Linked DNA regions of Homo sapiens: region 1 is linked to region 2. The links come from fine-mapping of genetic effects on gene expression. A gene starts in region 2. The other region holds a variant in brackets. All regions are shown on one strand. Distances are from middle to middle.

Region 1 (11,659 bases), 31 kb after region 2:
TTCTATGCAGTAGGGCCTGGCTATCTGTGCTTTTAGTAAGCCTCCTGAATGATTCTAGCCAACCCATGAAAAACATTTGATCCTCAGCACCAAGGCATCTATCTTCTATTCCTTGGTTAGCTTTCTCTAATCCCCTAACAAAAAAGAAACATGTTTCCTCTTGTTCTCCACTCTTGCCTATCAAGAAAACTTTGCACTTATTTAGCTAAACTTACTTCCCTATTTGGCAAGATAAAAAAATAGTGTTACACACAAAACATACAACATAGCATCAGGGTCCTAAAATCAACTTAACATCAAGGCCCTTTACAAGCTATACTATGTATGGATGAGTTCAAGAAGAAGAGTGTTGAAAAATAAGACACTTATGGACCAGATTGTGGAAGGACCAGTTTTTCAGCTACAGAGTCAATGGCCTTGAAAAAATAATACAGCAGGAGATTGGCAAGATCAACATAAATTTTAAGGAAACTATAAAGAAAGTAATAAAACAAAAAATGTGAGAGGCAGTGTAAAGGAGGAACAATTGAACTTGAGTGATAGTTAAGTATGTGAGAAAGTTGGGAATTAAAGACGTGATTCTGAAGTTGTAAGCCTGGGTGATAGAAAGAAATGACAGAAATGGGAAAATGAAGAGAAGGGACTGGATTTTCTAGGGGGAAAGTGGATACTATTACATTTGGGATTAAGTTTTTTAAAAAAAGAAAAAATAGGGGGAAAGTGGGGAGGGAAAGAGGACTGAATTAGGTTTTACTTGTCTGAGATAACATGGCGTTTAGAAAGCAAGGCCAGTCTAGAGACAGAGATTTCAAATCTTCTGCCAAGGAGTCTCAGGTGCAGCCAAAAGAGAATACTGGGAAAGATGAGTAGAGAACCAAAGACAGAAATTTGAGAAATTCCAGTAGAAAAGTAAGTGGAACCAATGAAGCCAAAAAAGAAACATCTATAGATCAGCAGGAGGAAAACCTGGATAAAGTCACAGAAGAAGAGAAAGGGGAAAGAGGAAGTGATCCATAGTGTGAAATGGCTAAGGAGAAGGAAGCCTAAGATAACAGATATGATAACTGCTCATTTCATAGCAGTGCCTAAGAGCTATCATTGGCTTTCCACTGCCTGCAGGTTAATATTAGCCTGACAAGAAAAGGCCTTTATAGTTGGCTCTAGTATACCTTTGTGATGCTTTATCTCCCAACTGACACTGAACTACATACTAAATATGTATTGCTACTATGTTCTCCTAAGCTTTTTTATACATGCTACTTTCTTTACTTGATGACATTTTACTCATTCCTCAGGATTCAGCTCATTATGCCAGTTCCTCCATGAATCCTGGTATACTCCTAGTCCCAATTTCAATAATGTCTAGTCAGTGCTTTGTCAATGCTAACACTTCAGTTTGTACATACCTTAACGGTAGAACTTACCACATGGCATCATCATTTTTTTACCCATCTGTTTCAGTTATCTATTGCTATGTAACAAATCATTCCAAAACATAATGACTTAAGTAATAACTAAGTTATTATTGTCTCAACATTCCATGGGTTGACTGGGATCTGCTATGTGGTTGTTCTGCTCCACGTGACATCAGCTGGAGCTACAGTCAACTTTAGGGCTCCATAAAGATGGAGCATGTAAGACAGTTCACTCATACGTCTAGGACCTTGGCTGAGATAGTTGGAGGATTGGGCTCAAGCTGGGATGTTGGTGTTGGGAAAGCTGGGCTTCTTTCTCTTCATGAGGTCTCTCCACATGTTTTTTCATGTGGTCCCTCCACCAAAGCAGCCCAACTTCTTATACAGCTGCTCAGGGTGTAAGAGCGTTCCAAAAGGAAGGAATCAGAAGCTGTCAGTCCTCTTAAAGGGGGCCCTGAACTGGCACTGTGTCACCTCCACTGCTATTAACACAAGTCGGGGCCAGGAACTGCTCAAAGGCATGAAAGGACACAGTTCCATAGGGACCACTTTGGAGCTGTCACCCTTATTAATCTGCTACTTGCTTGAAGAGCAAAGATTATATCTTTTTCATCTTTGTGGCCCAAGTACCTACTGGGGAACTTAACACATAGTGGACACCCATTAAATGATGGTTGAGTTGGATCTTGAGAATTGAGGAACAGGCCAAGTTAAGAAAAGTAAGGGCCAATGCCAAGTTGGGGATGGAAGTGGAAGTATCTCAATTTTCAACTTCTGGTGTTATATCAAAAGGAGGCCACACCTGCTGTCATCAATTTTTTATCTGAATTTAAAATGTTAATCTATTGAGTGGGAACATTTAAAATATGTCATAATTTGTGTAATCCTGTTTAGCGTATTAAAAAATACAGAAATGCTAAACAGGATTACACATATGGAAGTGGCCTGAGATGCTCCTGACAAGTTGAGAGTCCCCAGGAATAACCATTGTTAAGTGTACATGTGAGATAGTAACTTTTAAACTGTGTTGCTAAGAGAAACCTGAGAGTTCAGTAGAACTCCCTCAGGGACCACTTTAGAGGGAATGGGAATGAAGGGTCTGAGCTGAGCCTATGGGCCTGTGGACTCACAACCCATCCCTATCCAAACAAGGAAGCTTTTATTGATTTCACTTTTTTTTTTTTGACACAAATAAGGTTTTATTTGGAAAACAAAGGCAGGTTTTGGGTTTTTCCCCCTGCTAAATACATTGTGAAACTTACATGCTAGGAAAAAAAGAGGAGATGAATAACAAGATTAACCATGAAGACTTGGCTGGAACTGGACAGCCTAAATTGGCAGCAGGCCAGAACAGCATGGTCCTATTGGCAAGGCAAATATAAGAAGGGATTAAAATGACCAAGCTGTCTAGGGAGACAGTATGGAGGAGGGAGAGTGACATACTTTGAGTGTAGAGCCCAGATTTTAGTCCAGCTTCATCACAAACTAGCTCTATAGCCTTGGATAGGACACTTAACCTGAGTGGATCTCAGTTTCCCCATTTGCAAAACAAGGTCATTGGTCTAAATGACTTTCGAAGTCTGGGGTTCCTACTCTAAGACTCTGTGATTCCAGGGGGTTAATGTAGCAGTGCAGGTGATTGACAGTAATTTCCAGGCTTCACATTTATTCATTATTATCAGAGTAACCCCATTTTTGCATGGTATGAGGACCAGAAAAGAAAGATGAAAAGTTTAGGAGTTTGATATTGCAGTATAGAGTTCTTAGCTCAGATAATATCTGATATTAACTGGGCATTAAATACTGCTATTGTACTAAGCACTCTATCCATAACATAGCATTTAATTCTCACAACATCTCTATCAGGTAGGTACTGTTATCCCAATTATAAAGATGAATAAATTGAAGTTTAAAAGACTGTCATTTGCCTAGGGTCATACACCTAATAAGGGATACAGCAGGGGTTTAAATCCAGGGATTCAAATGCATATCTTTATTTTTTCCCCTATTCATGTAAAGTCTGCCCATATTATAAAGTCCTAAAGAACTAGGCTTCTTACCAGCTTAACTCACTTTATACAACCATAGCACATGGCTTCAGGCATGCTGGCACCTAGTGGGAATCTTTTTATAATGATGATGCCAGTAGTGTTGACAATATTAATGCTGGTTAAACAGAATTTATCTTTGAAATGCAAGTTAACAAACAGAATCTAGAATTTCAATATCAGTTCTATTCCACTGCTTGTATGTAATTCTACAGGAAACTCTACTGCTAAAAAGAAACTATGAAAGAATGGATGCATTTTCAGAGAAGTTCAAAAATTTCAAATTCTACTCTATGAATTAGGTAGATGTGTAGGTGGCAGAAGTGTCCAAAATATTTCACATTTTGGTAGCTTGTAAAATAGATAAGTTTAAAAAAACCTTATATTTGTAAAACATTACCAGACCACAGAGAAACTTCATAAATACTATTTCAGTTAATTTTCACAACCCCATGAACATTATCATCCCATTTTAGAGATCTAAAAACTGAGGTTTATATAAGTTAAATTTTTTTGCCCAGGGTGAGATAGCTAGTAAGTGGAAGCAAATTTTTATCTTTAGACTCCAAGTCCAGTGTCTTTCCATTACACTACAAGATACTTTACTAAAATGCACATTATGTATCAGTAAAATATAACAGCTATTACCTGCTAGAATAGAATTGATTAGTTTTGCCCCCTAGAGGATAAAATTATATATTTTCCAAAGATTTGGTTGCTACAGGTAACAACTTGGAGTTATAATATTAATAATATTGTATTAATATTGTATATTTATATAATAATATTGTGATATAGATGGATTAAAATATGTGGCTAACACTTTAAAAGAGGCAAATAAAAACAAAACCAAACATAAGTTTTTTTTTGAGATGGAGTCTTGCTCTGTCCCCTAGGCTGGAGTGCAATGGCGCGATCTTGGCTCACTGCAACCTCCGCCTTCCTGGTTCAAGTGATTCTCCTGCCTCAGCCTCCTGAGTAGCTGGGATAACAGACATGCATCACCACGACCAGGTAATTTTTGTATTTTTAGTAGAGACAGGGTTTCACCATGTTGGCAAGGCTGGTCTCGAACTCCTGACCTCAAGTGATCCACCTGCCTCGGCCTCCCAGAGTGCTAGGATTACAGGCATGAGCCACGGCGCCTGGCCCAAACATAAGTTTTGTTGTTGTTGTTGTTGTTGTTGTTTTAAATTAGGACTGTGAGCACAGCTAAATGCACTATTCTGTGTATATAGGACTAGGTAATGTATCGCTATTTTAATGTTTTTAGGATTTTAAACCTAACTATTATAAATCAATAGTTTATGGTTGGACTTTAAGCTACTAGGGGTTTTGATATTTAAAGAGCTTAATTTTCTTGATCACAAGGAGAAAGCTTATATGCAGTATGTTCTTTAAATCCATACAGATTTGGAGCATCCTCTGGCTCTATTGCTAACTACCTGTGTGACCTTGAAGAAATGCATTAACCTCTGTATCTATGTTTCCTCAAATTTATATGGGGCAATCATTCCTATGATTGCTTTGAAAATTAAATATGGAAGTGTCAACAAAGCATATGGTGGAGGATCTGGTGCTCAAAGAATATTAGTTATCTTCCTTAAGGAACTTGTGAGTATTGGTATATTGGGCTACAATGTGCCTGCTACAAAACCAAAACCAAAAACCCCTTCATCTCTACTTGTCTCTACTACTAATGTCAGATAGTAGACATTAATATCTGACATTAAAGAGTGAGCTATTTAGCACCCCCTCTGGTACCTTGTTCACAGCCAGGAACTTGGTAGGTGCCCAATAAATGTTAGTTGAATTAAACTGAAATCAAATTACCACATCCCCCCAGGGTCTCAAGTGTTTAATTAGAAGCCCACCATAGTCAGTATCTCATTGGCCAGTATTCGGCCAATATATAAAAGGATGTTGTCCTTGTAACATTCCTCCTTGGTCTCTGGGCCCTGCTTTTTTGTCATGGTTCATTCCAGCTGAACTAAAATTTCCCCAAACATGACTGAAGCGATGGGCCGAATCTAACAAGATTAAGTTTAATAGGGATAAATGTAAAGACTTATACTTCAGTCCAAAAAGAATCCTGTACAAGTGCTAGATGGAGAATATGGGGATTAGCAGCAACATGTGTGAAAAGGACTTAGGGGTTTTAGTTGATATTAAGCTCAATTAGTCAACAGTGTGCTTTTCCTAACAAGAAAGTTGACGTGAACTGAGCCTGCATTAACTCCTGCACCAGCCTGGCGATTACCCGACTGCACTAGTTTTCAAACTTTAGCTATATCAGAATCACCTGGCAGGCTTGTTAAAACACAGACCATGGCCCCATCCCCCAGAGTTTCTGATTCAGTAGGTCTGGGGTGGGGCCTGAGAATTTGCATTTCTAATGAGTTCCCAAATCAGTGCTAATGTTGCTGGTTCTGGGATCATACTTTGGAAATCACTGCCCTCCTTTATTTTGCCTGGTCAGGTAACACGGGTACTATTAGTAACAAAAATAGTGAAGAGACTGAAAACATAAGAGGGACAAGGAAGGAAGGAAAGAAATGAAGAGTTGTTATGTGCTATAGTGATATTAGTATGAATAATAATAATAGCTAACATTTGTTGAGAGTTTATTATGGGCTGGAAGTTCTACCAAACATATCATATGCAATTAATGACGGTAATAATAATAACTACCAACCAGATAGCACTTACTGTGTGCCAAGTTTTGTTCTATATGCTTTACATATTTCACCCTTACAACAGTCCTAAGAGGTACATATTACTATGCTCATTTTTCAGATAAGGACACTGCAGCCCAGAGAAGAAACCTGCAAAGGCCGTGTTCACACACTCACAAGAGATATGGCTGTGATTTGGATCCAGATGTGATGGGCTGACAACAAAACTCCTGTGATACCATGAAGTCTTCGGGAGGCAGAATTGAAGTGAACATGAAGTTTAGCTTAGAGAAGAAAAGAATAAATACATACAAAACATTTGATGGTGAATAAACAGAAAATGGTGTATTCAACAGAATTTGACTCAGCAATAAAAATGAACCAAACTATGGAAAACAACACCCAACAACAGGAAGAAATCTCAAAATAATTATGGTG[A/G]GTGAAAGAGGCCAGACCAAAAAAAAAAAAAAAAAAAGACTAGAAAATGTTAACTACCCAATAGTGATGAAAAACAAGCAGATCAGTGATTGCCTAGGGAGTGGAGGGAAGGGCACCCTGAAAAGAGGTAGGAAGGAAGGGATGATAAACAGGCAGAAGGAAACTTTTGAGGGTGGTGGATATATTCACTACCTTGATGGAGATGCTTGCAAGGGTGTCAAAATGCATCACATCGTATGCTTTAAACATGCACAGTTTATCGTATGTTAATTATAGTTCAATGAAGCCAAAAAACATATTTGAATTTAAATATGTTTAGTACAATCCACAAATCCTATGAAGTAGACCAGTATTATTGTTCTACTAATAACAGATTGAAAATTGTGTTCAGTATACCTATAAAACAGGTAATTTTGACAAATAGCCCCTTCAGCATATCTAATGTATACTCAATATGTCTTACCAATTTCCAAGTAGAAATTATCCATTAAGTAATAACTTAGGTTCTATTAAAACCTAATTCAATGGAAAAAACCTATTACTAAATTCTAGCTTATTAAAAACCAGTTTGGCCATAAGAGGTCACGAATTCTAAAAACTAATAATACTTAAATAAATTACTTAAAATTACTTAAGTATTAAATAATACCTAAATATATTTACAATAATAATAGTAGTAGTAGAAGTAATGCCATTTCCTTATTAAGTTTCCCATTTTAAAAAATACCTTAAAAACTCTGAAATTTTTCTTCTGAAATAAATAAGAGGATAGATAGAATTATTCTCATTTACCAGACATTAATTTTTAAATTGCCCGAAAAATGCCTTTTCTACAACTTTTTTTTCATAACTGCTTTGATAAGAAGAATCACAATCTGTTTGGAAGTTTGCTTTGCTCAATGTCATAAGTTGGTTTACAATTCAATCGAATGCCCTGGTTTGTCACAGGAGCTCACCAATAAGCAAAACAGCCAAGCCTTTTGAAGACTAATTAGAAAAAGTACAATAAAATTAATTCACACAGCACATGTGTTTTCTTAGACTTGGAAGAAATATACTGTCTGTGAGCAAAGAATTCTAATCACATTTGGAGGCACTGCTATAGAACTGTTCCTGGGATTTTTCAGGATTATTAACACATGCTGTTCTCTAATTATTTGTGATTTAGTAGACACATAAAACTCACCTGATTAAGCAATCAAAACTGAATCTACGGCAGAGGTGGGTCTCATGCCCTCTGCATCTTTATTCTAATTTCAAGACAGAACTGAAGTGTTTCTATCCCCTGACTCTATCCCTAGGGAGAACAAAGTCATACAAGTCAAAGATAAACTAAAGGATACAGCTGGGCCTCCAAGATAAGGAGGAGTAGAGTGTGGGGAAACAGGAGTAAAGACCAAGTTCTCTGGTTCAGGAAGATCGATCCTCATCCCTCTATTGCCTGGAGGGGTGGTTTGGGAAGGAGGAGAAAAGGCCTAGAGGAGATGGCTTCCACCTGCCTGGAAGGTGGCCCAGAAAGAAAAGGAGTACACAGATTCAGTTTCAGCAAGGGACAGAGATCAGGGAGGAATTTGTGAGAAAGGCCATAGTGAAATAATCATGTAAGTGCCTTTGCCATTTCTCCCTCATTCCAAACTATATGGGGGTAGATGACTGCATGAAATCTCAGAATCCCAAGACTGGGGTCTTGGCTTTTAACAACTGACAATCAAGTGGGAAGGAATGCAAGCATATACTTCTAGGATGAATTATTGAAGTTCCTTTTTTTTTTTCTTTTTTTGAGTCAGGGTCTTGCTCTGTCACCCAGGCTGGAGTGCAATGGCACAATCTCGGCTCATTGCAACCTCAACCTCCTGGGCTCAAGCGATCCTCCCACCTCAGCCTCCCAAGTAGCTGGGACCACAGATGCAAACCACAAAGCCCGACTAATTTTTTTATATTTTTGGTAGAGACGGGGTTTCCCCATGTTGCCCAGGCTGGTCTTGCACTCCTGGGTTCAAGTGATTTGCCTACCTTGGCCTCCCAGAGTACTGGGGTTATAGGCATGAACCACCACACCTGGCCCTATTATTGAGTTCTATTAAGAGCCAGCCCTACCCAAAAAATCTTTGATGTCTTCCACTGGGGGATAGATAAGGGTTCTAGTATATTAAGAAATCACAGAATAATAAGAAAAAAAAATCACAGAATCATGTTTACATAGCACCTCTATAGACTCAGTCATAATCTGGATTTCTCATGTGTGTCCAGGGATACATCATTTAATCAAGAAACACTAAGAACAAAATCTTGCGGAGAAGGATCTCAGTAACTGGTGGGTAACCAGGACTGGTTTCACAAGTGTAGGACTTATACAGTAACACCAGTAACACAGTCCCCAAGCACCTCTCCCCGACCTGCCCCACATCCCTACTTGGTTTAATGCTCTACTGTGCTAAAAAAATTCTTAATACATTTTGAACAAGGAGTTCTGCATTTTCATTTTGTATCAGGCAATAAGTTTGTAGCCAGTCCTGAGGTTAACAATGTAAGACCTGGATTACAGACCTCTCCTTTCTGGGAAATCCCTTCTGTCTGGGCACCTTATTACTAGTTGCAATATTTGTCAGATGTTTTTCAAAAGGGAACATAATTAAAATAAACTGCTACTCCCTAACCATGTGTTTTATTGTTCTTTAATAATAATTTTGGGCCGGTGTGGTGGCTCACATCTGTAATCCCAGCACTTTGGGAGGCAGAGGTGGGAGGATTACTTGAGGTCAGGAGTTCCAGACCAGCCCGGCTAACACAGTGAAACCCCATCTCTACTAAAAATACAAAAATTAGTCAGGCATGGTGGTGCATGCCTGTAATTCCAGCTATTTGGGAGGCTGAGGCAGGAGAATTGCTTAATCCCAGAAGGTGGAGGCTGCAGTGAGCTGAGATCATGCCACTGCACTCCAGCCTGGGTGACAGAGTGAGACTCTCTCTCAAAAAATTATAATAATAATTTTTAAATTTTGCAGGGTGAGCCATTAAAAGTGGCTCACACTTGTAACGCTAGCACTTTGGGAGTCCAAGGCAGGAGAATTGAGTGAATTCAGAAGTTCAAGACCAGCCTGGGCAACAGAGTGACAACTCATCTCTATTAAATTAAAAAAAAAAATCAGCCAGGCATGGTGGTGTGTGCCTATTGTCCCAGCTACTTTGGAGGCTGAGGTAGGAGGATCACTTGAACCCAGGAAATTGAAGCTGCAGTAAGCCGAGATCATGCCACTACATGCCAGCCTGGGCAAGATAGCAAGACACTGTCTCAAAAAAATAAAATAAAAATAAAAAATATTTTTGGAATCAAGCATACATTGTGTGTGAGACATCAGGTAAAGTGCTAATACTATAAAGAAACATAAATGCCAGAGATGTAATCCTAAGTATAGTTTCCTGCAGAATTTTTTTCTTTATGTACCTTTGAGTTGTATCTGTATTCCTTTTAGCAGAGTAACTGCATCTGAACAACTACATCCACAAGCTCTCTGGCCATATCTATATGCACAATCTATTCAAAAGTATTTCATCAACTTTTATCTCCATTGTAAAATTACGCAGATATTTGGATCATCCCAAGAAGTAAAGGTCTCTACATGTGAGTACAGACTGATCCCTTAATTTGTTCCTTCTTGGCTGCCAATGCCACTGGCAGAGGAACCTCTAACACTATTTTCTAAGGGACAAGGCCCAAGTGAAATTCTGATCTACCAAGACTTGCTAATTATTAAAGTAAAGCTGAAACACCACACACAGAAAGAGTTGCTTTATAAGAGCGGTAAGAATAGGTCCAGGCCATACAACACTGATTTCCACACACACACCTCTATTGTTTTGTGTTATTTTGTTTCCTTTAACTAAGCTAACTTTTAAAGGGTTATGTCTACAGCAGCCTAGCAGACACACAACTGTGTCTGTTAACAATGAATTAGATTTTCTGGTTGCAGAAAAGTTACAAGATCTGGGCCTCTTTGGGGTGAAAACACAGAGCTAAATGTGAATAAATGCTGCAGTAGAGATGATGGCCAAAAAGAATGAAGACTACACAATTAGGATATTCAGAGACTGTTAATGTGAATCACACACTCTCTCTACAAGATCTTGATTTCAATAATTGTCAAATTAATTTCATAAGTACAGTAAAACCTCATTAATTTGGATGCTCTCAACTTAAAATTTGTATAAGTAATATAATAGAACTCCGCTGGTTTATCTTTCTATAGTGGGCACAAAAATGACAGGTATAGGCCAGATGCCGTGGTTCACGCCTGTAATCCCAGCACTTTGGGAGGCTGAGGCAGGCGGATCACTTGAGGTCAGGAGTTTGAGATGAGCCTGGCCAGTATGGTGAAACCTCGTCTCTACTAAAAATAGAAAAATTAGCCTAGCGTGGTGGTGCACGCCTGTAATCCCAGCTACTCAAGAGGCTGAGGCAGGAGAATCACTTGAACAGCAGGTAGAGATTGCAGTGAGCCAAAATCGCACCACTGCACTCCAGCCCGGGCAACAAAATAAACCACCTCTTTAAAAAGAAACAATTTTAAAACACCCTCATGTGCTTTAAAATTCTTGGTTTCATTAAATAATAATTTGGGCTGGGCATAGTGGCTCACACTTGTAACAACAGCACTCTGGGAAGCCAAGGCAGAAGGATTGCGTGATGAGCTCAGGAGTTTGACACCAGTGAGGGCAACAGAGTGAGAACTCGTCTCTATTTAAAAAAAAAAAAAAAAATAGCCAGGCATGGTGGTGTGTGCCTGTTGTCCCAGTTACTTGGGAGGCTGAGGTAGGAAGATCATTTGAACCCGGAAGATTGAGGCTGCACTGAGCTGAGATCATGCCACTGCATGCCAGCCTGGGCAACAGAGCAAGACACTGTCTCAATAAAATAAAATTTAAAAAATTAATAAAACATATTTTTGGAATTGAGTATATACTGGGTGCAACACATCAGGTGAGGGGCTAGTATTATAAAAAAACATAGATCAAAGGTCTGTCTTTAGTGAGCTTAGAGGCCAGTGGGTGAAACGGGTCAGGTACATGGAAATGTGACTCTCAA
Region 2 (11,659 bases):
TTCTTCACTTGGTAACATAAGTAAAAAAGCAAAACCAGCTAGGATGTGATCTGCGATAAACTAAGAGTGCACATGAACCACTAATTCCAATGTGTCAGTCAATCAGTCATCAAAAAACTGTAGTTGTACTGCCTGCCATGCACTTCAACCATCCTCAGGATACATACATAAATAATACGGTTCCTAATTAGGGAGGTTAGATTTGTGGGCAGCAGAAGACAAGTAACAACATAAGGTAGCATGTAGTCAAGTAGCAAGTGAGTGACCCAGATAACAACTGTTGTAGGACTAGAGCACTGGTTCTCAAAGCGTCTGTGGAGGTCCTCGAGACTCAGGGGTTCTGTGAGGCTAGAACTATTTTAAAGTACTAAGGTGATATTTGCCTTTTTCACTTTGCCAGTGTTTTCACTGATGCTGGGTGAAACTGTGGTGGTCTTGGCACAAAGCAAGGAAGTGGAATCAAATTGTAGCAAAAAAAAAAAAAAAGTCAGTTTCACTCAAGAATGTACTGGATAAAGCAGTAAAAAAAAAAGGTATTTGACTAAATTTATTAAATCCTGACCCTCTAGGGTATGTCTTTTTAATATTTTGTGGGACAAAATAGAAATGATACGTAAAGTGCTTCTATTACACACAGATGTACGAGGGCTGTCTAGGAGAAGCACTAGTGCAATTGAGTTTCAAGTTGAACTAGTCACTTTTTTTATAGAATAGCATTTTTATTTGAAAGAACAACTGACTGACAAGACAAATTGTGGTTATTCAGACTCGAATATTTGGCAGATTTTTTTTCTCAGAAATAAACAAAGTGAGCCTGTCACTTCTAGGAAAACAATTGACAAGATTTTTTTTAACCAATGATAAAATTATTTGAACTTACAAGTAAAAATTAAAATATTGGAAAATTCATATCCTAATATGTAAAATATTTCCTGATGAAATACAACTAATGAATATGATATTTTTGATATTGTACAATGAAATAGACATTTGGAAGAGCTGCATAATTCAGTGAAGGAATAATTTCCCAGTGACCATTACATGCTGTTACAAATCACTCACTGTATTATGATTTGCGTAAAACATCCAAGCAATAGACCAGTGGGTTTTAATGTAACAGAATATGAAAAGTTTATTGATATGCACTTAAATTCCCCATTGCAATTAACTTTTTTGAAATTATCATTTGAAGGATTTTGTAGTAGTATTAAAGACTATCCACAATTATCTGAAAACACTCCTTTCTTCAATGATGCTTCTCTTTGGGGACAGATTTTCTTATGTACTTAACCTACACAACATGTCACAGTAGATGAAAATGCAGAAGCTAATATGAGAATCCAGCTGCCAGATATTAAAGAGACTTCCAAAATATAAAATAACATTTTTCTCAAATTTTTGTTTGGGAAAACACTTATTATTTTATTAAAATGTGTTACTTACGTTAATACGTAATGGCCTTGTCATTATTATAAATTAAGTAACTCAAGTAACATATTTTAAACATTTCTCCAATTTTAATTTCTAATACAGTAGTATCAATAGATGCAATCCTCATAAACTTACATAAACAAAAGCTTTGTGGGGCTTTAAGACGAAAATATTTGAGAATCACTGGACTAGAGAAAGAGCAGCCATCAGGAGAAGTTAGAGAAACTGTTCTCTGGGACCTGCTATTTCATAATCTCCAAACACACCCTTCCTCCTCCAGCGCTTTATGACCCAGACTGAATGGTGTTGATTATTTAGAGTTGGCCAATTTACACTAGTGTTCTTCAGGTAACATTTATATTTGTGGAAATGCAATATAAAATCCTTAAATGCAGCACAACTCCTTCATAATCACAGACCTACTATTAAGTGGCAGAACTAATAACACATAGAATAAATATACGAGATTTTGCCAAGTATCAGTGGTTCTTTTCCATGTCCAAAGCCTCCCTTTTAACATTTATTATTATCATTTTCCAACCCTTCCATGGACCTAATATAATTAAAGATATTGTCTAGCAAACAAACTACATTTATTAACAGTAAATTTATTTTCCTACTTTGGATTGACTTTATGCAATGCCAGGCAAAGCAAAAACAATAGAATTTTCTGCAGTAATCACGCAATATCTGTTTAGATTTTTGAAAATTTAAACTAGGTTGTAGATTCCTCCCCACCCCATCATTACTTCCAAAAAGCACTTGGGATATAGAAACTCGAGGTTGAGATCCTCTGTGGCCTGTAGGTTTTGGTTTTGTTTGAATTTAGCTTTTGGTTTTTGGTCACTCAAATCATGACAGAAATAAGTTTTCCCATTTTTGCTCAGTGATCAGATATCTGAGAATCCAAGGTTTGAATCCCTTATACGGATACATGCAGTTTTAGGGTTTGCAGTGAGACAATGAAAAAGCCTGGGCTCTAAAATCAGAAAATGGCCTTCCAGTTAATAGCTGTGTAAATGTAGGCACGTCGATCAAGTTCACTGAACCTTAGTTTCCTTATATGTAAAATAGAGCTAATCATATCTACCTTGCTTAGCTGGTATGTGGCACAGGAAATGATAGACATTATTATTCAGCAAATAAACCAAGTTGTGCTATAAATCCATAGACTGCTTTCAATATTGAAATTATTTCATATTTTTGCCAATTTGTGGCAAAAAAATGTAAAAGACACTTTTGTGATTGGTCCTTGGTATAGTTTTGCTCCTTTAAACATGGACTAAAACTTGCCCATGCTCAGTGTGCAGGTCCTTCAACACATTTGAAGGTGAACAGTGCTGGTCCCTGACAAACTTAAAAATTGTTCAGGTTTATCTTTAGGCACAAAGAATAATCTGTGTTCTCAAATGCCATAGTGACCTCTGTCCCACGGTTCAACAGCTGTAGGGCTATCCATAGAAGCAGCTGGGCCTCTGGTTTCTCTTAGTATCATGAACCCAATATGGAAATCCTCCCCCTCAGATTTACTCACATTACTTCCCTGACCTTTCCTTCCTCTAATTCCTCCTCTCCCCTCTCAGATACAGATTTTATACTTTCCTACAAATGTTCTGACTTTAATTAGTATTCATCATTAATTTGAAGAGAGTCTATATTCTGACATCATGATATGAACTTTCCATGTTAATGAAATTTCTGACAATTTAGTGTGCTATTGAAATTCTTCCCTTCTCTAGTGGTTATGGTTGCATTTCTAAAATCTGTTATGATGTTGGAAGAATTACATTAAAAGTAGATATCATCAATGTTTTGTTCATTATTGTAATAAAATGAAAACATCTTAGTGTTGTGTTATAAATCCTATAATTAGTCTGTAATCCTTCCCTCCCTTCCAAAGGTATTTCAGGGATTAGAGTTTTTAATTGTGCGTGAGATTCATAAAGTAGGGGCACAGCCTTGTTACTACTATTACACATTTTTTTTCATTTGGATAATTTAGCCGTTATCACTTCAAAAATCTATTTAGAGATGACTATAATAGCTAGTCTCTACATTTTTACATTGGATTTTTCTTTCTTCCAAAAAAATTACTGCTCCACAAACCCCAAATATATTTTTAATTTAGGGAAAAAGTGCTTATATCTGAGAAAATGTGGATTTGGAGAATATATAGAACCTTTCCTCGGGAATTCCGAAAACTCAAGCGCTCTGGCTTACCAAGTGAAGTAGGTTTTCAGGAAATCCCAGCCCCTCAGGACTCTCGATCTGAACCAATCCCAGCTGCCATAGCTCCGCGCTCCCGGGATGGGGCTGTGTTGCCCACGCCTCGCGGCGCGGGCGGACACACACCCTGCTAGGACTAGCTCAGTCCTCCCAGTTTCCCTTCCGAGATGCCTCGGAATCTTTACCACGGTTATCAAACGATTCTGTGGATCAGTAGTTCCCAACTTCTAGGGACAGACGCCCTTTTAAAATTCAACGTAACAGACCACCACCCTCCAAACAGACTGTGATAGCCGTATTTTTAAATTCTCTACTGATTGAGAAAACTCAAAAACAATTAAAAACTCCAATAGAGCCTACAGTACTTTCAAATGACTGTATATTTTAATTATAGCATTTGCATACAACTGAGTTTATTTATCTATGCTGTACGCTAAGTTTAGGGGCAGGCTTGGTGCACAGATGGTTTCGCCCACCCTTTGCACAGGGCAAGCCCCCCCCAGGCGCCCAGGCTGGGAGGCCCAAGTCCCGGCAGCTGCTGCGGTGGACTTAGAGGCAGCAGCTCCTGCTTCTGCCCCAAACGTTCAGTGTAGTCGGATTCCCGGGGACAGCAGGGCAGTCTGCGCGCACATCCCCGGGGCATCGCAGGACACCTGCTGCCCCCTATCGGTGGTGAGAACAATAACCCGAACCCGGTTGGAATCAACTGGAAGAGGCCTTTTGAAAAAAAGAATATTCCAGGACTACGCAGTAGCCAGACGACTCTCTAAGAACATGGGTTTCCGCAGTCAGCTCCGACTGCCTCGTTTTAATGCAGTTTTTCGCCATTGTAGGAGAGCATGCTGGATCGAAGAGGACTCTGACACTGCTTCGGTGAAGGCGGGGAGTGGGGAAGGGGGGGTGTTGAAGGGGTTCAAGATACACCCAAGGGTCTATTTGTTTTCCACCTCCCTATTCAGCAACCCATCTGGTCCTTATGCAAAGCACTTGCCTTCTCCCGGGATGGGGACACACATCAGAGCACAGCGTGGTGTTTTCCCAAGCCCCCGAGGCACCTGTTCCCTCACATTACACCTTGAGGAGAGTCCAGTGACCTCTGCTGCAGAGGCGACAAAGGCTCCCTGGGAAGCCGGCCTCAGTGGTGTCCAGGAATGGCTTTCAAACAGCGTGTACTCCTGTGGTCCCTTTAATAAACATAGGACTATGCTTCAGAAAAGCAAAAATAAATGCCGAGAAGTAAAAGGAAGCTATCGGTTACCCCGTTACCTCTGAAGCCTGTATATGTGAAATTTTCTTCTGAGACCGAGCATTAAAATTTGCTTCCACTTGGACATAGCCAAGATTGCTAACAGGCTGGGAACGTGTGTGTGTGCGTGTGTGTGTGTGTGTGTGTGTTGCTACATACTCTGGGATTTCTAATTTTATTTTCATCACTTTCTCCCCGCTTATTACTACCCCCCCACCCCAATACACACACACTTGGCAGTATCCTAACTTCTTCACTCTTGTCCACATTTGTCTTGGCGCTCTGGGGAAGAAGGTAAGAATAGATAGACGAACGAAGGTGCGTGCAAGAAAGGAGGGAGGGGAGGAGGTACGGTCGGCTTGCACACCAGACTGTGCTTGTTTGAGCAGGAATAGTGGCGGGGTGTCTTCGAGAGGATAACGGAAATGCCCCACCACACGCCCACAGCGCAAGTGCCGGCGTCCCCAATCGGCCAGTGGCAGCAGCAGAACCGGGGTCCACTTGGCACCTCAGGGGCTCTCGCCCGTCCGCTCTGGGCGTCGGGCTGTCCAGTTTCCCTGGGAATCTGGGAGAGGAAGGAGGCTTAGCTAGCTCTGTTCTCCCTGCCAGTACGCTGTGGCGGCGGCCCCTGGCCAGGGCCCGGCCAACTCCCCGCTCTTGGGTGGCTGCAGGTGCCCAGTGGCCCATCCCCAGCGGGGGCGAAACGCCGAGCTGGCCGAACCTTCCACACGTCCAGCTCGGAGTGCGTCTCAGTCGCGCGGCAGAGGCCCCTGGGCCCGGGCGCTCTGGGTTCCCGCGGCCTGTGGGCGCGGTGCACAAGGGCGCGGGCGGGCGGCGGCAGCTCCCAGGCGGAAGGCGCGGCGGGGCCACGGTCACCGCCGCCGCCGCCGGGGCTCGGGCGGAAGCGCGGGCTCCGGGGGGAGGGGCTGCCGCGCCCCCGCAAGGCCCAGGGATCCCGGCCCCGAGCGGCTCCCATCCGAGCAGCAGCGGATCCCGGGCCGCCCTTACCCTCGCCGGGCAGGGATGAGCCCTGGTCAGGTTCAGCCGCAACCCCGCGCGCGGCGGGGCGAGGCCGAAGCCCACGCAGGTCCGCCCGGTGTGCGTCTTTCACTCGCACACACTGAGCCCCTTGCCAGGCGCGCAGGCCCGGGCTACGAGGCCGGCTGCTCCGCCGTCTGCCACCTCCAGGACCCAGAGCCGCCAGCCCTGGGCTCCCGGCAAGCTGTGACTTCCCGGATGGGGCCATGCTTTTCTTCCAGGACAATCGGGGCTCCTCCCCTCCCGGCGATCTTTCTAGGAGGCCACCTCCAGAGATTGCGAGGCGATTTCCTCCCTGCCGGTACCAAACTGTAACTCCTCTCGCTACAGACGCGGAGAACCAAACGCTGACTATTTGGCGAGGGACCACCACCACCCAGAAAAACACACGGTTCAGTGTGCGTTGATTGTTTGCATCAGCGAGTTCATGGCGAATAGAAGTTCTCTATTTTTGATAGCCCTGATTTTCAAGCGTTTTAAAAGTTACGTTCTGTTTTCTGCTTGGTCAACAACACGGAAAATGGAATATTGCTTTTTTTGTGATTCAAAATCAATTGTAGTTACAATGACTTTGAGAATTTCACGGCATCTTGTGAGATAAAATGGAGATGCGCACCTAGGTGAGAGTCACTGGAGTGGATTACGCAGTGGCCGGCTGGATCCGGCTAACAGTCTCTGAGGCTCATTCCTTTTCGTAATCAGCTCGCCCACTCTAGTAGGACTTTCATCTTTAAATTATTTTTTAATTATCATGAGGCTCTCAGTCTAAGATAGCAAAGATTGAGCGCCACATTTAAGCAGTTCTCTCAAACTAGCTTTACCTTTTTAGGGAAGTAATTCCTGGGCTAATCATTTCAGATCTGAGAACAAAAGAAGTTGCTAAAAAAAAAAAAACAACTTTTATTTACGCAGCAGATACTTATGGATCGTCTACCTTGCACCAAACGCGCGCGCGCACACACACACACACACACACAGTGAATACTGTGGGCTATACAAATAATATATAACATCTGTTGAATGATTAATATGTGACAGGCAATATACTTGCTACTTAAAAAGGATTCTATCATTTTACCCTCCCGGGGACATATGAAGTAGAGATATTATCATCCCTGCTTTACCTATGAGAAATATACGAGTCATGAAGTAACTTACTCTAGGTCACCCAGTTAATAAGTGGCAGGACAGGACATTACACTTTACGCCCAGTCTGATACAGAGACCTCAGCCCAACCTCTACAATGTGTCCTTCAGTCAGATCTGGGAATCTGTATATTTTGGAACCACCTTAGGTGAATGTGATAGAATTAGAACTTGAGAAGCCTTGATGTAATCAAACTTCCTCATTTTCCTGATCAGAAAACAAACTCAAAGAAGCAATTTTTCTGGAAACACACAATTGCAGAAAGAGATTCAGAGAGGCTGTTCCTGGTTTCTTGGCTAAGGTCCTTTCTACTATCCAGACTACATTGGCTCAGTCCAGGAGGAGTCAAAGAAGGTAAATAATTCAACAGTTACAAAAAGTGTACAGTCAAATCTTGATTATCCTTAGTTTCCCCTTCAAATTGCTTGCCTTCTGGATTTTTGACTGTTAATCTAGTTTCTCTCCCAGAGGGAGAGAGAAACCGTGTGAAACTCGATTATTTCATTTCTGCTCATGTTACCTGGTAAGAACGCTAATATTATAAAGGAAAATGGGGGCCAGGCATGGTGGCTCATGCTTGTAATCCCAGCACTTTGGGAGGCCAAGGCAGGAGGATAGTAGAAGTTCAAGACCAGCCTGAGCAACACAGACAATCCATCACTCCCCCCCCCGCAACCCCCAGCCCCACCCCCACCCTATCTCTGCAAAAAGAAAAAAAAATGGGCATGGTGGTGCATCCTGTAGTCCTAGCTACTCAGGAGGCTGAGGTGGGAGGATCATTTGAACCCATAAATTCATGGCTGCAGTGAGCCATGGTCATGCCACTGCACTCCGGCCTAGGTGTGGTGGTGTGCACCTGTAGTGCAGCTATTCAGGAGGCTGAGATGGGAGTGTTGCTTGAGCCCAGGAGGTCAAGGCTGCAGTGAGCCATAGTGCACCACTGTGTACCAGCCTGGGCAACAGAGAGACCCTCTCTCAAAAGAAAGAAAGAAAGAGAGAACCATGCAGACTACTGCCTTTTCTCAACAACTCTGAGCAAATTATTTCCTTTACCTAAAATCATTTGCTGATCTCCCATCCATTCTACAGGATAAAATTAAAATTAGACTTATGAAGAAGGCAGATAAAATATTACATGATATTACTACTTTTCATCACCCACAATTCTGCCTCTCATCAAACTTTAAGCAATACTAAACACGCTGTAGTCCTCTGCACATATAGTGCTGTCCCCTGCTTTGTGTTCTTGCATTATTCCCATCCTCTGCCTGGCCTTCCTTCCACACCTGTCTCTTGGAAAATGCCATTCATTTCCCAAAACTCTGCTCAGACAGCACCACACATGTGAATTTTCCTGACCCTCTGCTACCTCCCACAGAGCAATAACCTCGTGCTTGTGCAGCAGACCTCTTCTGTTCCTTACATAGTCTCTTTTATGGCTCTTAATCTGTATAATGAGTTGTTTCCATATCCTTAATCTGTATAAGGAGTTTTTCCATATCCTTCTCTTCTCACTAGAGCTCCTGAGGAATCTGTCTATGTAAACTTTGTTTAGTGTATCTGAAAACTTAGGAAAGAGGCTAAACTTACTTTAAATAGAATGTTACATTTTCAAATAATACCTTCAGTATGTTTAAAGCAATATGTCCATTTGTCATATACTACGGAATGTCAAAAAAATCTGAAAACAGAGGAAAACATAGTGTATTTATTATACTTTTTCACATTACCCCATTACTTTAAATTTAGAGGTATTTAAACTTCTGGAAACTTTTCTGGAGAATGAGGAAAAACATACTAAGCAGATTTGAAAATGTAACTAAAATAATGTTTAAATATAAGTACACACTGTTTCCTGACTTTCAGACACCTTGTAATCCGGGGACCTAACACTATGTCCCAGTTCCCAACACATAGAATCTGTTGAATTGTTCTAAACTGAACTGAGCAAATAGTTTAAATATCCATGGATCCAGGACCTTCCAGTTCTAGCTTATCACAGTTCAACCTTCTGTCTCTCCTTTTGGTGAGCTCGTATCAGCTTTAGTCACTTTGTCAATCAACCCCTGTATTTGCTCTTTCCATTTGTATTAATGCTTTTAGCTAAATTATAATTGTATGTATGCTGTTTACATTTATTAGGGAAGGAGGTCCCTACATTCTTCCCCATTGGTGACAGTACAAGTTGTTGAGGGTTAGAGACAATTAATGGAGCAATAGAGTAGATAAGGCCTTCAAAACAGCTACTGGATCATTCATTCATTTATTCAACAAATATTTTTTCAGCATCCATTATGTGTCAGACTCTGAGCCAAGGAATGGCCTCCCAGACATGTAGAGGAGTCCTGTTTTATCCAACCTCCCCACTTGTACTTATTGCACAATTTCATACTGCTAGAAGCTTATGAGTGGGCAAATGTTTTCTGTACCATCCGGGACCATGAGGGTGTCCCAAGACTAGCCACTTAAAGATTTTGCTTGAATAAATTTTCCATGTCAGGTCAACTCTTTAGTGAATAAAGCACATTGTGTATATTTATGCAAAATTCAAAAGGTAATTGATAAATATTTACAGAACCTCTGGAGCACAAATAGGTATACCCATGGACCACTTCCTTGACAAATGGTCTCAAATTAACAAACTGATCTCATATGATAAGGAATCTGCATCTCTAGAAGGGTTTATTTCGCATTTAATATAATAATACCATGACTATCTTATATGTCTGTTTATTTAGATATATTAGTAATGTTTATATGCTCACCACAAGGTAATTAGAAAGAATGCTTGTGAGATAATAGGTATAGTTTAATATACTTTTTAATATCATTAAAGTAGACTTTGTATATCACCAGGGAGGAGAATCTAGAACTCTAGATTCTTTCATTCTAAGGAAAGCAATGGGAAATATAGCAAGCTATGGAGAATTAATGAAGTCTGTAGTTCAGAGAAGAGATTATATTCTCCAACAAAAACACTTTCGGAACTTTTGGCTCAAAAAGCATTTCTTAGAGTACAGATTTGAGAAATAAGGGATATAAACATATCATTTTTTGGAAACGCAGTTTTATTTATTTATTTTTCTTTTAATCCTCATTGACACTCGGGTTGTGTCTCAATTTGCAAAGCAACCAAAAATATCCAGTCGATTATTTGAGTAATTTAGACCCCTAGATAAATTGCTTGAATTACCTCAGTAGTTATCACCATTATAATTGTATTAACTTAAATGAGGAGAGGTAACACAATATATTGGAAATATTTGGAGCCAGATGATTTGGATTCAAATCCTGACTCTTCAGTTTGCCAGCTCTATGACCTTGCATCACTTCTGTCCTTTTGTGGCTAAATCCTTTGTGAAACAGGTATATCTCTACTGCCCTGTCTACCAACAGGGGGATACTGTGAGAATCAAATGAGGTAATGGATGAGAAACTGCACTGTGAAATGCACAGCAGTGCAAATGTGTTTCTGATGTAGGTCACACAATTTTCAATTAAGAGAAATATTCCTTGAAATTTAATAAAAGGAATATCCAAATTGATTCTTGGAATCACTCACAGAATAGAATTCTCTGAATTAGATAACAAGAAACCACTTTCTCAAATATTAGTCCATTTTGTTTTGCTTTGTATTTGATCAGGAAAATGAGTTCTGATACTGCTAGAGCTGCCAAACAATTTCTACTCTGATTCCTAAACTGGTGAGGAAAGCACCAATGCAATGACAAAAAGTATCATTGACTTCTCCTGTCCTTTTACAGAATTTATTTTACTATGAGTTTGTATTATTTTTACTAATTTATTTTATAGGATTCATTATTAGTATCTATAATGATAGCTAATAAAATATTTATAAGGGGGAAATGGGAAGATGGTAATCGAAGGCTACAAAGTTGCAATTATGTTGGTTCAATAAGTCTAGAGATCTGATGTTCAGCATGAGGACTATAGTTAATGACAATGTATTGTATACAGAACTTTGCTAACAAGATTTTTAGGTATTCTTAAAAAAGTAACTATGCGAAATAATGCATATGTTAATGTCTTTGACTACAGTAAAGTAGTATGCATATAAAAATATGATGTACACTTATATATACACAATTTAAAAATTATTAATTCTATAGCCATTTATTCAAACATTTATGAGTTTATATGAAAGGCAGAGGAGAAAACTGAGAAACAAAAAAGTGTCCTATTGCTAGACCTTCACATTTGATTTTGAAACCAGTTTTCCCTAAGCAAAAAGATGCTACAAATTCATAATTTTAAACTACTGGTGCTGTTCAAACTGGAAATGAGAGGAAAATGTATTAATAAAAATAGCTGTATAAGAATTAACTAACTCATCCTAACTCAAAACAACACCCATTTCTTCCAGTTAAGTTTTCTGTTTCATTTCCCACCTCTACTTTTCCCTGTAAGTTTGGTGATTTGTGATTAAAATGGACATACTTTTCATAATAATTGCATTAACATGTCCCCGTTTTCATCTTACCTCCTAACTACTGCAGTAAACAGGAAAATTATTGCAAAATGAAAATACAAAAAACAACCTACGGTTTTTT

The links.
Region 1: its variant is fine-mapped to the expression of LINC01990 in nucleus accumbens (GTEx, PIP 0.97).

What each region holds. Positions count from the first base shown.
Region 1 is chr3:107,456,314-107,467,972 of GRCh38, forward strand. It overlaps LINC01990 (long intergenic non-protein coding RNA 1990), which reads left to right. Exons shown (of 3, transcript NR_110039.1): 2 at 4,360-4,477; 3 at 6,260-7,599. Among named protein-coding and RNA genes, the nearest start is that of LINC01990, 31 kb to the left of the region's middle. The variant A/G (reference allele first, on the strand shown) is at 6,577.
Region 2 is chr3:107,425,762-107,437,420 of GRCh38, forward strand. LINC01990 (long intergenic non-protein coding RNA 1990) reads left to right here and starts at 5,169. Exons shown (of 3, transcript NR_110039.1): 1 at 5,169-5,197. RefSeq lists a silencer at 5,715-5,964 and an enhancer at 6,175-6,364.